4 linked regions of the Homo sapiens genome follow. The protein of the gene in region 1 purifies or fractionates together with the protein of each later gene. This does not show direct contact. Each region holds a gene or a part of one and is shown on either strand. Other genes may lie near its edges.

Evidence for each region. The genes of interacting proteins can lie anywhere in the genome.
Region 2: the proteins of SLC24A3 (region 1) and GPR89A purify together in Homo sapiens (affinity purification with mass spectrometry, with the first as the bait; one large-scale study listed by BioGRID). This does not show direct contact.
Region 3: the proteins of SLC24A3 (region 1) and BRI3BP purify together in Homo sapiens (affinity purification with mass spectrometry; one large-scale study listed by BioGRID and IntAct). This does not show direct contact.
Region 4: the proteins of SLC24A3 (region 1) and TMEM109 purify together in Homo sapiens (affinity purification with mass spectrometry; one large-scale study listed by BioGRID and IntAct). This does not show direct contact.

What each region holds. Positions count from the first base shown.
Region 1 is NC_000020.11:19,211,232-19,215,441, reverse strand, and holds the start of SLC24A3 (sodium/potassium/calcium exchanger 3 precursor), read right to left. Parts: upstream 2,801-4,210; 5' UTR 2,600-2,800; coding exon 2,458-2,599; intron 1-2,457. UniProt on the Homo sapiens protein: Calcium, potassium:sodium antiporter that transports 1 Ca(2+) and 1 K(+) in exchange for 4 Na(+).
Region 2 is NC_000001.11:145,614,488-145,617,987, forward strand, and holds part of GPR89A (Golgi pH regulator A), read left to right. Parts: intron 1-1,746; coding exon 1,747-1,806; intron 1,807-3,500. UniProt on the Homo sapiens protein: Voltage-gated channel that enables the transfer of anions such as iodide, chloride, bromide and fluoride which may function in counter-ion conductance and participates in Golgi acidification.
Region 3 is NC_000012.12:125,014,145-125,017,644, reverse strand, and holds part of BRI3BP (BRI3-binding protein precursor), read right to left. Parts: intron 1-3,500. UniProt on the Homo sapiens protein: Involved in tumorigenesis and may function by stabilizing p53/TP53.
Region 4 is NC_000011.10:60,917,158-60,920,550, reverse strand, and holds part of TMEM109 (voltage-gated monoatomic cation channel TMEM109 precursor), read right to left. Parts: intron 2,936-3,393; exon of another isoform or gene 1,398-2,935; intron 866-1,397; 5' UTR 858-865; coding exon 621-857; intron 1-620. UniProt on the Homo sapiens protein: Functions as a voltage-gated monoatomic cation channel permeable to both potassium and calcium. Plays a role in the cellular response to DNA damage.

The DNA of each region.
Region 1 (4,210 bases):
TATAAATATTACAAAGCTACACCCAAATGGTGGTTTGAATATGAGGACAGAGTAGGGAACAAAAAACCAGGTTACCTCAGGTTGGTTTTTTCCTCTACTCTTCGAATGCTGTGTGACTTTAAGCTAATCACTCAGCCTCTCTACACCACAAGGTCTTCGAAACAATGCTCCATTCCAAACTTCAGTATCTGTACCAAAGGACCACTAGGTAGTGTGTGCTCCAAGTTTCCAGGGTAAAAGTCACCATTCAAATGCTTACGTGTGCCAAACGACAATTCCCCTTGCAAAATTATCATTTGCAGATTCACACACATTAATTAATATGTTAAAAATTATCTAGAAAAACCTGTGTCTTGCTGCAAAATACTACTGTGCATCACATACCAAAATCATCAATACCTAACGGAAAAAAAAGTGATTGGAGACCATTTCAACTCATATGTCATTCGGGGGCAACACAGGGAGGCTGGCTGGCATCCTCCTTAACATTTGGCTTTTGCCTGTTAGATCTTCAGTTACTGGGGTGTGGAGGGGTCCTAAGACCAACAGAGATGAGAAGGGAGGAAGAGGAAGTGAGAGGAAAAAAGAATATGAAAGGTAGGAAGGAGAAAGGTAGGACAGAGGGAGGGATGCGGAAAAGGCCGTGCTATGGAACTAAATCTGAGTCAGTGGCACCTGAATAGAAATGTCACTACCAGGGAAACCATTCCAAAATGACATTCCAGTCCCCAGGTTTCAAGTTTGCAGAGTGTCTGGCCTCCTCTCCTCCCAAATCCCAGCTTTTCAGGGCCCAGGCAGCCCCCTGTCACTGATTGACTTAACTATATGAGTCACATCCTTCACCCAGAAAAAAATGTCTTTTATATTCTTGAAAGTGGTGGGAACTCTATGTCTCATAGAGCCCCAACATACCAGAAAAAAATGGCCAGCGTGTAATCCACTAGGAATAGCCCTTTCCAAAGGTGGCATGAACTATAAACTGGTTTTTCACTGGAGAAAAATAAAAAAGGAAAATAAAAATGGGATTCGGGAAAACCCCCTTAGTGAGACTGTCAGTAGACAGAAGTCTGGCAGATGTGAATCTGCCCTGGGAGAGATTCTGCTTCCCTCACACCGGCACGGCCCCCTTCCTGATGTCAGAACCCAAGGCTACGGGATCTGAGATCCAGGAGAGCAATGGAGAGAGCCGTGGAGTCTTGAACAGCTTCACTGAAGACCAAGACGGACTCTCTGCTATTACCATAAATGATGAAGTCTGTCAAGCGGTCTGCTAAGACTGAATGAAGACTGACGCCTGTTTCACTTCCCCACCAAGCAGGAGACCAGCCAAGCTGGGGGAGATCCCTTTTTAAATTCATGGCACCTTTGAAAATATTTTACGGTGACTATCAAAATGTCTTTATTCTGCACCTCATGACATCTTGCATTAGAGCTACGTCGACCTCAACACCACAGCACATACTTGTAACTGTTTTTTTGTTTGTTTGTTTTGTTTTGTTTTGTTTCTTTCTCACAACCCTTTACATGGCTGTTTTCCCACTAATCGTGCCACTTCCACGGCCGGGATATAAAACCATTTTACAACAGTTATTCTCCCATGTTTTTCCTTCATTTTATAGACAGCTGAATCCCAGGATCGAAGCTGTTTCAGCAGACAACTGTTGGGAGCACACAAGATCTATTTCAGCTCAAGAAAGGCCAAGGACAAAGACAAGACAAAAGTTGTGGGTTAAAGGGCAGACTTTGCGCAGAGCACCGGTAGAGGAGCGGACAGTGTGATGCGTGGTCCACTGCAAACCATTTCTTCCACAGCAGCAGCTCTGCAAAAGGGACCTCTGAGGAAGAATTCCCTGTCTTCCCAGTGAGTGGTCATTTTAGGAGAACAAGTCCCCTACTAGCCCATAGCTGGAGGGCCAACACTTTTTCTCTCCCTGAAGTTCCCGGCACCTGTTCTGAAAGGGGGTTGAAGAGCTCTCTACTCGGGCCATCCCGCCTGCTCTCTGGATGGAGAACATACGGACAACTGTGTGTTAAGCAGTCCCCTTGAATCCTTCAGCAAGCCAAGGAGTATACAGGTGGTCACCTGCACAGGTGCCGGGTCTACCACCACAACTTTATCCCTGGCCTTGGGGGCTGATGGAGAGTAAGACTCCCCACCACCGCCACCAGCAGTACCTCCAGCTCGCGAGTAAGCAGCGCACAGGCGGGCACAGGTAAATGTTCCCAGGGCGGCCAGACGCCTAAGCCTGCTGGCTGCTGGCGCTCAGGGTCCCCACCTCCATGCCTCTGCGTGGGGCAGGGGGAGTCCTCGTGCCTGGCATCCCACTCCCCCCGCCAACCCAGCCCGCTTATCCTGGGGCTCCGGCCGGGCCGCCCGAAGGAGCCCCGCGCCCAGCCCCGGGAGCCCCGAGCCGCCGGAGCCGCAGCGCCCACTCGGGGCAGGCAGCGTGCACTCACCCTTCTGCTCTCGCAGGCTCGACAGCGACCAGAGCAGCAGCGCCACCGAGGCCAGGAAGCAGAGCTGGCTCAGCAGAAGGTCCCTCCGGCGGCGGCGGCGGCGGCGGCGACGCGCGCGGTCCTCGTCGCCGGACGGCCGCATCCTCGGGCGGCCGGGCGGCGGCCTCGGCGGGCGGCGGCCGCTCCTGTCGCGGGCGGCCGCGGCGGGGACAGCGGCAGGAGGCAGCCCTGCGCGCAGCAGCCGCGCGTCCTCGCTGCGCTCCCACCCGGCCGCCGCCTCCGCCTCCTCTTCCTCCTCCTCGCCGCTGCCCGTCTCCTCGTCGTCGCCCTCCTCGTCGCTATCGCCCAGTCCCTCCTCCCCTCCCTCCTCCTCCTCCTCGCCGCTCGCCCGCGCCGCCGCCTCCCGGCGCTCGGGGTCCCGCTCCTCCTCGCGCGCCATGGCTCCCACGCTCCGCGCCCGCGCTCGGCCTGGGGCGGCGGCGCGGCGGGGGCGGCGGGGGCGGCCGGGAGGCGGGGGCGGAGGGGGCAGAGGAGGAGGAGCGGGGAAGGACCGACGGTAGGAGGGCCCGCCGCTGGCCAACTCCGCCGGTTGGCAAAGCCACCCCGGACTGGCTCTGGCCTCGCCGGCTGCAGGAGCGCCTCGCGGGGCCGCCCGCCTATTCCATGGTCGGCGCGATGGGGGCCGGGGCCGGGCCGGAGCGAACAGGGAGCACCGAGCGAGCTGGGAGCATGAGCTAGCGCAGCTCCCGGCAGCCTGCAGCGGCGAGGCTGGTCGGGCCAGGGTTGGCGGGGGGCAGTGCCTGGGACACAGCCCGGCGCTGGCCGGCATGGCGGGGAGGGGGCGCGCTGGGAGGAGACTGGGCTGGGGAGGGATCCCTGTGTGCAGTCCTTCAACCCTTCTGTGCCAGGGGAAGAGGGACGGCGCAGGGGGCCCCCTCTCGGGAAGCACACACGCTGCCTCCCAGAGGCCGATCTTCACCAAGAAGGATTCGCTGGAAACTTTCGGAAAACCGAGGGGCTCTTCAGCCTCCTCTCTACGTGCTACCTGGAGTCGGGGCGCCGCGAGTGCGCTTGGCTGCCCGCGCCCAGCCTCTGGCCTCGCCTCTTCTCGCGGGCCTCCCGGGTTTCCCTCTGCCCCCTTGCGGGGATCCCCCTGTGCGCCCGACTCGGGATCTGGAACAGGCCTCCCCAGAGGCTGTTAGTTCCATAAGGGTGTCCGGCTCCCCCCTCTGTCTTGGGCTCACACTTCGCTTTCTGTTCGTGCTGGACCAAGTCCAATACTGTGGCTGATCGAAGTGGGGACAGCTGGCACGGTCCCTGGAGAGGCGGCCTGAAGAGGCTTCTGGCCTTGTGCAGGTAACACCAGCCTGCCCTACCTCCAACGTTAGAATCTTAGTCCTCCCATTTCCCCCATTCTAGGTCTCCTGCCCCTCCTTGCTGAAGGTGTGGGCTGCCCTAGAGATGGCTGGACTCACGACCTGCCGCAGGTGCCCATTTGGAGGGGATCCCTGGCCATCCCAGACACAGCCCACTCTCCCTCATTGGGCTTCCCTGGACTCTTCCCAGATGCTAGCCTGGGGCTGCTGGCTGGGCTGAGGAGGAGATGCCATTGTTGGGGCGGAGGGTGGGGGGGCGCTGAAAACAAAAGACCTTGTCCAGAAAGGGATCACCTGAAACCAGGTGTCTGTCTAGGTGACTGTCTCCATGGAATCCATTCAGATCAGGGAATCTAGCTTCATACCCTAAGGAGGTG
Region 2 (3,500 bases), on another chromosome or scaffold:
TGAATGCTGAAGAATAAACCATCTTTTATGTAGACCACTTAGCCATTCAGCAAGCACTTATGGAGAGCCTGCTACGTACCAGGCTTTGTGCTGGATGCCAAGGATACAAAGATTACAAGACAAACATGGTTTTTGTCCTCATAGAGCTTATAATCTAATGTCAAAAAATATTTAAATCACACATTACAAAACTGTATGGTAAGCACTTTGATGAGGGAAGTACAATGTAAAACAGGATTATATAAAAAGCAATTTATCTGCATTTGGGAGGGCAGAGAGGGCCTTCCAGGGGGAGTAAATAGCATAACTGGGAGAGGGCTAGAGAGAAGTTCCTTTCAGAGGACATCTACACAGGTCTCGATGTGAAAGAATATGGATCTAAAGAACCAAAGAAGTTCCAGGGGGCTGAACACATGAGTTTGCTAGGCAGCAGGGGCATGATAAGAAGCTAAAGTAGTCTGTGCTAAACTACTGAGTTTACACTTGCTCAGTAAAGTAGTCCCTAGAAAGACATAAAATCATTTTATTCATAAAGGTCCTAGCCAGTTTAAGAAGAAAAGAGTAGTTGTGTCAGTGTGTATGTATAGAAAGTTCTGTTTACTACAGACCAGCTTTATCAGCTGTCATGTGGCTACGGTCTCTGCCAGTTTGAAACAAAACTGACGAAAGAGGGATCCTGCAATCTCTCGGCTTTACATTGAGATGAAAACCACTTTTATGTAGATTAGGCAGGATGGTGGAGAAGCTAAGAAAACTCTCTGAAGGAAACAGATATAAAAAATATTAGGCTTTCTACTACTCCTCTAATTTTGGTCTCAACTCCTCTCCCCTGAAGTTTTTATTTTTTAAATTAATTTATTTTTATTTATTTTTTGAGACAGGGTCTCACTCTGTTGCCCAGGCTGGAGCGCAGTGGTGCAATCATGGCTCACTGCAGCCTCAACTTCCTAGGCTCAGGTGATCTTCCCACCTCAGCCTCCCAGGTGGCTGGGACTACAGGCACACCCCACCACCCCCAGCTAATTTTTATGTGTGTGTGTTTTTTGTAGAGACGGGTTTTCACCATGTTGGCCAGGCTGGTATTATTTTTAAATACTTGCAATCAGGGATCATCCATAAGAAGCAAGTCTCACTCTGACACCTTTTCTTTTTTTTCGAGACCTAGTCTCACTCTATCACCCAGGCTGGAATGCAGTGGCACGATATTGGCTCTCTGCAACCTCTGCCTCCCAGATTCAAGCGATTCTCATGCCTCAGCCTTTGGAGTAGCTGGGAATACAGGTGCCCACACCCAGCTAATTTTTGTATTTTCAGTAGAGACGGAGCTTTGCCATGTTGGCCAGACTGGTCTTGAACTCCTGGCTTCAGGTGATCTGCCCACCTTGTCCTCCCAAAGTGCTGGGATTACAAGTGTGAGGCACCGTGCCTGGCCACTGACTCCTTTTCTATTTGCAAACTTCTCTGGCTCATATAATGATTATCATAAGATTATGGCAAAATATGTACTTCCATTTTTGTCTTAAAGCATACTCTGTAACATGGATAACTTCAAAACTCCAAGGGCATTTAAAAATTTATTTCCAATGTCATGAGCTTTAATAATAGGTCTTATAAGAGTGGATCTTATCTTTAATCCCTGAAATAAGTTAACCGTCTAGTTAGCAGACCTTTTATCATAAAAGAGTTTCTATAAAACATTTCTCAAAAGAAAATATGTATTGACATTCTATTTTCTTTCTCCTCCAGATACTATTTTTTGGATTTGGGTGGCTTTTCTTCATGCGCCAATTGTTTAAAGACTATGAGGTGAGAAGAAATCATTTTGTCATACTTACACTATATGATTTAGATTGACAAGAAAAATGTCTCCATTAAAGAAACATTATGTTCATTTCCAAGATAGGAAGCTTTTACCAAATAAGTACTATATAACTATTAGATTGCAGAATATAAGTAGACTTAATTGATTTAAAAGGGGGGAAAAAAGGCAAATCAAATATAGCCCAGAAGTTAGGAGCAAGGATTATGTCTTAGTCATATCAGGATATGTACCAATAGCAAATAGTTATTCTGTAGGAGAGAATTTAATTCATAATGTCTCACAAATGTTCCCTTTCATTTGTCTATCTGGCCCTGAATTGCAAACCTTATATTATAAGTTAATACCAAAATCCCAAGGCTATCAGGGGAACCAGTCCCCAATATTTCAACATAGGTTCTTTCTGTTTTCCTTAAGTGTCGGCCGGTCTGAGAAATAAAGAGAAAGAGTACAAAGAGAGAAATTTTACAGCTGGGCCTCCAGGAGTGCCATCACATATTGGTAGGACCGTGATGGTGACTCCGAGCCACAAAACCAGCAAGTTTTTATTAGGGATTTCAAAAGGGGAGGGAGTGTACGAATAGGGAGTGGGTCACAGAGATCACATGCTGCAAAGGGCAGTAAAATCACAAAGCAGAGGCAAAAATTAGAATTACTGATGAGGGTCTGTGTCCCACTGTGCACACATTGTCTTTATAAACATTTTAACAGGAAATAGGGTTCAAGAGCAGACAACCAGTCTGACTAGAATTTACCAGGCTGGAATTTCCCAATCCTAGTAAGTCTGAGGGCACTGTAGGAGACCAGGGTGTATTTTAGTCCTATCTCAACCGCATAAGACAGACACTCCCAGAGCGGCCATTCATAGACCTCTCTCCCAGAATGCATTCCTTCCCCAGGGTTATTCCTTGCTGGAAAAAGAATTCAGCAGTATTTCTCCTACTCGCTTTCTGCAAGAAGAAGAGTATGACTCTATTCTGCCCAACCCCGCAAGCAGTCAGACCTTATGGTTATCTTTCCGTGTTCCCTGAAAATTGCTGTTATTCTGTTCTTTTTCAGGGTGCACTAATTTCATATTGTTCAAACACACATGTTTTTCAAACAATTTGTACAGTTAACGCAATCATCACAGGGTACTGAGGTGACATACATCCTCAGTTTACAAAGATGACGGGATTAAGAGATTAAAGTAAGACAGTCATAAGAAATTTAAAAAGTATTAATTTGGGGAACTAATAAATGTCCATGAAATCTTCACAATTTATGTTCAGAGATTGCAGTAAAGACAGGTGTAAGAAATTATAAAAGTATTAATTTTGGGAACTAATAAATGTCCATGAAACAATTTATGTTCTTCTGCTGCGGCTTCAGCCAGTCCCTCCATTCGGGGTCCCTGACTTCCCGCAACACAAGGCTGGTGTTGTTTTTATCTTAAGCTTTGGATTCAGAAGATCACCACCCTAGACTCGACATTTCCTAGTTAGTTCTCCTAATTAGTAATAAGATCAGTGGTTATAGTCTACATTTGGGTCATTTCTAGGATATTCTCCATTAAACTTTCCCAGGGAGTTTATTGTCTGAAAGAGCCTGGGATTCTGGAGATTTTCTTCTGCCCAATACTTTAAGACCTCCCGAGGAAGGTTCCAGAACTGATCCAGGATCTGCAGAGTGTTGAAGAACC
Region 3 (3,500 bases), on another chromosome or scaffold:
GCCATCTATCGTGTGCTGAGCCCTTGAAATGTGACAAGTCAGAACTGATGTGCGCTCTAAGTGTCAAATAGAGACTGTCTCAAAGGCCTTAGTTACCCAAAAAACTGTGAGACACCTGATAATTTTCTATTAATTATAAGTTGTTTTTAATATATTGGGTTAACTAAAATATCTTATTAAAATTAATTTCACCTGGGCATGGTGGCACATGCCTGTAATCCCAGCACTCTGGGAGGCCAAGGCAGGCAGATCACTGGAGCTCAGGAGTTCGAGACCACCCTGGGCAACATGGCAAAACCCCATCTCTATAAAAAAAAAACATTAGGGGGGCACGGTGGCTCACGCCTGTAATCCTAGCACTTTGGGAGGCCGAGGCAGGTGGATCATGAGGTCAGGAGTTCGAGAATACCCTGGCCAAGATGGTGAAACCCCATCTCTACTAAAAAAAAATACAAAAATTAGCCAGGCATGGTGGCAGGTGCCTGTAATCCCAGCTACTCGGGAGACTGAGGCACGAGAATTGCTTGAACCCGGGAGGTGGAGGTTGCAGTGGTGAGATGAGATCGGCCACTGCATTCTAGCCTGGGCGACAGAGCAATACTCGGTCTCAGAAAAAAAAAAATAATAATAATAATACAAACGTTAGCCAGATGTGGTGGTGCACACTTGTGGTCCCAGCTAGTTGGGAAGCTGAGGTGGGAGGATCACCTGAGCCTGGGTTGGTGGAGGTTGCAGTGAGCTGGGATTGCACCACTGCACTCCAGCCTGGGCAACAGAGCAAGACTCTGTCTCAAAAAAAAAAAAAAAAAAAAAAAAAAAGGCTGGGCGCAGTGGCTCATGCCCGTAATCCCAGCACTTTGGGAGGCTGAGGCGGGCGGATCACGAGGTCAGGAGCTCAAGACCAGCCTGGCCAACATAGTGAAACCCTGTCTCTACTAAAAATACAGAAAAATTAGCCGGGTGTGGTGGTGCATGCCTGTAATCCCAGCTACTTGGCAGGCTGGGGCAGGAGAATCACTTGAACCCAGGAGGCAGAGGTTGCAGTGAGCCGAGATAGCGCCATTGCACTTCAGCTTGGGCAATAGAGTGAGACTTCGTCCCTCCTACCCCCCACTCCCCACCCCCTCCCCCCCAAAAAAGGAAGAAAAACTAATTTCACCATTTCTTTTTACTCTTTTGACATGGTTACTAGAAAACTTCACATCACCTAGGGGGCTCACATTTTTTTGCTATTAGACCATTCGGGGCTACAGAGTTCCCATTTTAACCAGACTCAAAAAAAAAAAAAACACTGAAGAAAGAAATTATAGAATTGTGCTCACAGAAACCTTTTTTACCAGAATATCCAACGTTGGTGTATGGCTTCCTGTAAAGCATTTTGCACTCAAACTTCTACGCATAAGACACGAATTCCAAAGGGCTTCGGATGCCTTGAAGCTTACGCATCAAACAGAACTAGAAAAGCTTCGACACGGAAGCAAGCTCGTTTCGCCTCCAGAACGCGCCAGCTGCTCCCCTGATGAATGCAGGCATTCAGGGCTCGTGGATCCGCTGCCGATGCCTCTATTCTGGGCTTCTTCCATATGATTAGGAGGCTGTTCCTACTCTGTAGTTTTTCATTCCAAGCTGCGTGCGATTTTCTGCAATCAGGTTTGTTTCTCCAGGGTTCAATGGGTGGCGACGAAAACACAGAGAGTTTGACAATCCGGGCAGGTGGTGGATACGGAAGCTAAGAGGATTGCACGCGGTGGCTGCATCTGGGGGAGGGTGCGTTAACTCTGCCAAGTCCCTGGAGGGGCCATGAGTGGCCCCAGGGGGCTGCCAGGTGCACAGTGTCCTCTGGCTATGCTGACGCCTCTGATTCTTTGTCTGAGCAGTGAGGTGACTGAGTTGGCCTAAGGCCTCTTAAAGGTTGAACTCAATGAATTAAGGCTGGAGACATTTCTGAATGGCCTGGGGTGTCAACAGGTATGAACCAGTGTGCCCATCATGGCCAGTGGACCCCACTCCCCCATCTCTGGGTGTCAAGCACCAATGGGCGCTGCTGAGAGATTCCGCATGTAACAGGGCTATGGTATAATGGTTTCCCGTGACTGCCGCAACAAACCACTACCAACTGGGTGGTTTACAACAGAAATTCATCCACTTGCGGTTCTGGAGGCTGGAAGTCTGAAATCAAGGTCTTGGTGGGGCCACACTCCCTCTGAAAGTTCAAGGGAGGATCCTTCCTCGCCTCTTCCAGCTTCTGGTGGTCCCAGTGTTCCTTGGCTTGTGGCTCCGTCCCTCCAGTCCCTGTTTCTCATTTCGCATGGCCGTCTTCTCCCTATGTTTCTTGGTGTTTCTGTGTCCAAATTCCCCACTTCTTATAAGGACAGCAATCATTACACTGAGGGTCCACCCTAATCCAAGACGATCTCATTTAACTTTATCACATCTGCAGACCCCACTCCCAAACAAGGGCTCACTCACAGGTCCAGGATTAGGACTGGAACACATATTCTTGAGGAGCACATTTCAGCCCACATGACTGGCTAAGCAGTGGGACCCACAGCCCTCCTGCTCTTATTAACCAAGGGTGGGCTGGGTGTGGTGGCTCACGCCTACAATCTCAGCACTTTGGGAGGCTGAAACAGTAGAATGGTTTGAGCCCAAGAGTTTGAGACCAGCCTGGGCAACATGGTAAGACCCTGTCTCTACAGAAAATTCAAAAATTAGCCAGGTGTGGTGGCATGGGCCTGTGGTCCCAGCTACTCGGGAGGCTGAGGTGGGAGGATCACGAGCCCAGGAAGTTGAGGCTGTAGTGAGCTGTGATTGAGCCACTGCACTCCAGCCTGGGCAACAGAGTGAGATCCTAAACAAAAACAAACAAAAAGGGCCTCTTTGTGCCAGGTGCAGAGCTGGGGCCAGAGTGCAGCCTGGAGATGCCAGGCCTAGGCTGTTGACACAAATGATGTGGTTTATGACAACACCTGCGTTCCCTCTGGGAGTCTAGAATTTTGACACGTGTCAAGCAGAGGGTGACTACATGACCAGCCCCCAGTAAAAAGCCTGGGCAGGGAGTCCTTGGTGGGCACCCTCTGCTGGGGGAATTAAGTGTGTCCCGTATGACTCCACAGGGAGAGAACTCTGAAGCTTGGGCCTGGCCTGCCCGGGAATTCGCGCACCTTTTCCCTTTGCTGATGGTGTTTGCGTCCTTCCGTCACAATAAATCACGGCTGTGAGGACAACTATATGCTGAGTCCTGCCAGTGCTCCTAGGGAACCGGTGAGCCTGTAGATGGTCTTAGGAACCCTGCCACATGCAGCAACTGCAGACCTTCCCGTGAGACAGGTGGCAGCTGGGACCAGGGACCAGGGCGGTGGGGCTGGAAAGAGCCCAGCTGGGGAATTTCCTCTGGAAAGGCCCAGGGGAAGAGCGGCCTCCACCTTGTGGACAGAAGGAGAGCAGTGGAGCGGGGGCAGCTAGGAGATCCCTGTTTACCTGGCACACCATGGGGCACG
Region 4 (3,393 bases), on another chromosome or scaffold:
TTTAGTAGTCACCCTATAAAACTGGAGGCCTGCTAGCTGTCCAGGGAGTCATGAAGGTGCGTGGAGAACATCTGTAAAGGGATAGGATGTTCCAGTGAAAAAGGAGTCTATCAGCTATACTATATTATGGATTTAATAAATGATTGTCTCAGCCCTTCAGTCCAGCCTATCAAAAGTATGTGATACCATGCTTGGGATGCCACCAGGTAAAAAAAGATAACCCTGCCTTAGGCTCCCAATAAGCTCAACCCACTTCTGCAGGTGAAGGAATGGATTCAGGACTTGATATTTTGCCATTTCGAGATTCTAGGTCAGATTTAGACCAAAGTGAGACTCTACAGTCACCCAGTAACATGGGCTTATAAAGATGGCTCATTTCCCAGCCTTTCTGGCAAGGAAAGGGCAGGAGCCAGGAAAGGATAGGGGTGGAGCTAAAAGGCCCTAGGACAGCAATCAAATAACGAGGAATTCAAAGACAAGTGCTGTGTGGCTTCTTTTTGTGGAATTTGGGGCTCTCTGCACCAGAGAGGATGTGGAACTAAGATGAGGTGGCCATTACCAACCTTTCTTCTTTTATTTTTCCTTAATGTGTGTAGTCACACAGGGACTACCTTCCTTACCTCTGACACCAGGTGCATGGTCTCTGGCCCAATCCAGGCATCCAGTGTCCCTCGCACAGATCGACCTATCTGGGTCAAGACATCAACTGGGGCTTCTCTCTTCTGTTGGCCTGGTGGTGCAAAGTCTCGACGGGACTGGGCCAATGCTGAGTGGAGGAGGATAAGGGCCACTAGGACCATCAGAATGGCTTTGAACACATGCTTTCCCCATGGTGAACTGATGCTGGAGGCTGCCATGACTGGGTCTGCCAGGAGAGAAGCACAGTGAGCTGAGTGCCATGGTAGACACACTCACCCTCTCAGCTCTGATTATCCCAACATCCTTCTCCACCCCTACCCCAAGCAAGCACCAAACTAACCCTGGAAAGAAAGTGCTGTTAGCTGGGAGAGGAAGGACTGGGACTTCCAACTGAAGCTGGGCACAACCATCTGACTCACAGGTTCCTCTTTCACATTCTTTACCACTTGCATATTAATTAACCAGCAAGTATTATTCAACACTTTAGAGTTGGCGAGAAGATCTCTCTAAGGTTTGTGCCAGTTCTAAAAATCTGAAGGCCTGTCCCTGTATCTTAGGTGCTATAGGCATAAAAGTATTATAAGACTCTATAAAGGCTCTGTCCCAAGGAGCTTATAATCTACTTAAGATACAGCTGGTATAAAAAACAACTTAAAAATAGCACACAAGTAGGATTACTGCCATATAATGGTATAAAGAAAAGTGCTCAGTTATGTGCTCAAACAAGAATAACTGCACATATGTCATCTTCTCTGCAGGACCATCATGTGAGGTGGCTTTTATCCTCCTCGCCCCTACTGGTACAGACGAGAAGAAACTGTGACTCAGAAGTTAAGCATTTTCCCATGGTCACTGGGCTACACAGAAAGGCCAGGATTTGAACCCAAGCTTCTGCTTCCACCCATCTTCATTAGGAGTCAAGTTATACTGTGGGTCTCAACCATGGCTGCTCACTGGAATCACCTGGAAGCTTCCCAAGTACTGATGTCTGTGTCCCCAGCCCAGAGGTTCTGATATCATTGTCTGGGTGTGGCCTAGCCTTGGATCTGCAAAAGCTCCCTAGGCAGTTCCACTGCATGAAGTTGAGAACCACTGATACAGAGTGACCTCACCTCCCCACCCCCAATGGAGGTGCTATGGTTTGAAGAGCAAAACTCATGTTGAAATTTAACTGTTCTTGCACCTCCTGCAGAGCCTGGGAGCTCCCAGTCCAGCCAAGGATGTTGGATCTCATGGTCCTAAGTACTTCTTTGACACCCCATTCCCCTCAGTAAAATAGTTTGACCCCTTCTCCACCAAAAAAAAAAAAAAAAGAAAGAAATTTAATTGCCATGATGATGGTATTAAAAGGTGGGACCTTTAAGAGGTGATTAGGTTATGAGGGTTCAGCCCTCATGAATGGATTAATGCCGTTATCTTGGGAGTGGATTAGTTATCCCAGGAATGCAGCTCCTGATAAAAAGGATGACTTTGGCCTGATTTCCTGTCTCTGTCTCATGTGCTGGGTTCTGCCTTCTGCCATAGGATGACCCTTGCCAGATGCCAGCGCCATGCCCTTAGACTTCCCAGCCTCTGGAACTGTGACCCTAATGAATTTCTGTTCATTATAAACTACGCAGGCAGTGGCATTCTGTTATAGGAAGCAGAAAATGGACGAGGACAGTGAGCAAGGGTATAATGAACAACCTTTAAAGAAATACTATTAATAAAAAGCTAACATTCAGCTAGGTCTTGCCATGCACCACCGCGCTCATTTAACTGTCACAACAGCCCATCGGGTAGGTGTTGCTATTATCCCCCATTTTACTGAAGTAATTGAGGCAGGTTAAGTATTAACTGGGGAAATCAGCATTTGAATGTAGGTACTTCTGACATTGGACCCCTCATACACAACAACTCTGCTGTATTGTCTCCAACTAAGTCTCAGAAGTGATTTAGAAAGTCATACAGGCCAGGCACAGTGGCTCATTCCTGTAATCCCAACACTTTGGGAGGCTGAGGTGGGAGGATTGCTTGAGCCCAGGAGTTTGGGAGCAGCCTGGGCAACATAGGAGACCCTGTCTCTACAAAATAAATATAAATAAATAAATTAGTCAGGTGTGGTGGTGCGTGCCTGTACTCCCAGCTATTTGGGAGGCTGAGGGGGGAGGATCACTTGAGCCCAGGAGGTCACGGCTGCAGTGAGCTATGATCATGCCACTGTATCCCATCCTGGGCAAGAGAGCAAGACGCTTAAAAAAAAAAGTCACACAACAGATTATTCATGAGTTAAAATAAACTTGGCATCTACCAATCATCTCAGTGAATTACTGGTGAAAATTACCTAACAACTTTGTGCTTTGTGCTCTGGTCTTGTAACACAATGCCACAGACAAGTTAAGACCCAACAAGTGCCAACTCATTGAAGCAGGTAAGGATCAGCCAAGAAAAAGTACACAAGTTCAACTTCTACTTGCCACTGTGCTTGAGAAATGTCAGACAGCGCCAGCAAATTCCCTGTTCCCCTCCAGGTTCAGAAATGAACCTGTAGCTCCAGGAGTTTTCATGATTCAGACCTGATGATCAGAGGCTAAGCCATGCCCCTGAGGTAGGAGCAGTCAGGTTTTTGAACTTTTTGCAGTTACACAGGCACTCAGGGAGTTGACAATAAATCCAGAGCCATGAGGGATGGAGAAGGAAGAGAATGATGTCCTAGTCTTGCTTAGGGGGAAGGAGGAGAGTCTAGGAAAGGGTTCTAAAAATACTACATTTAGG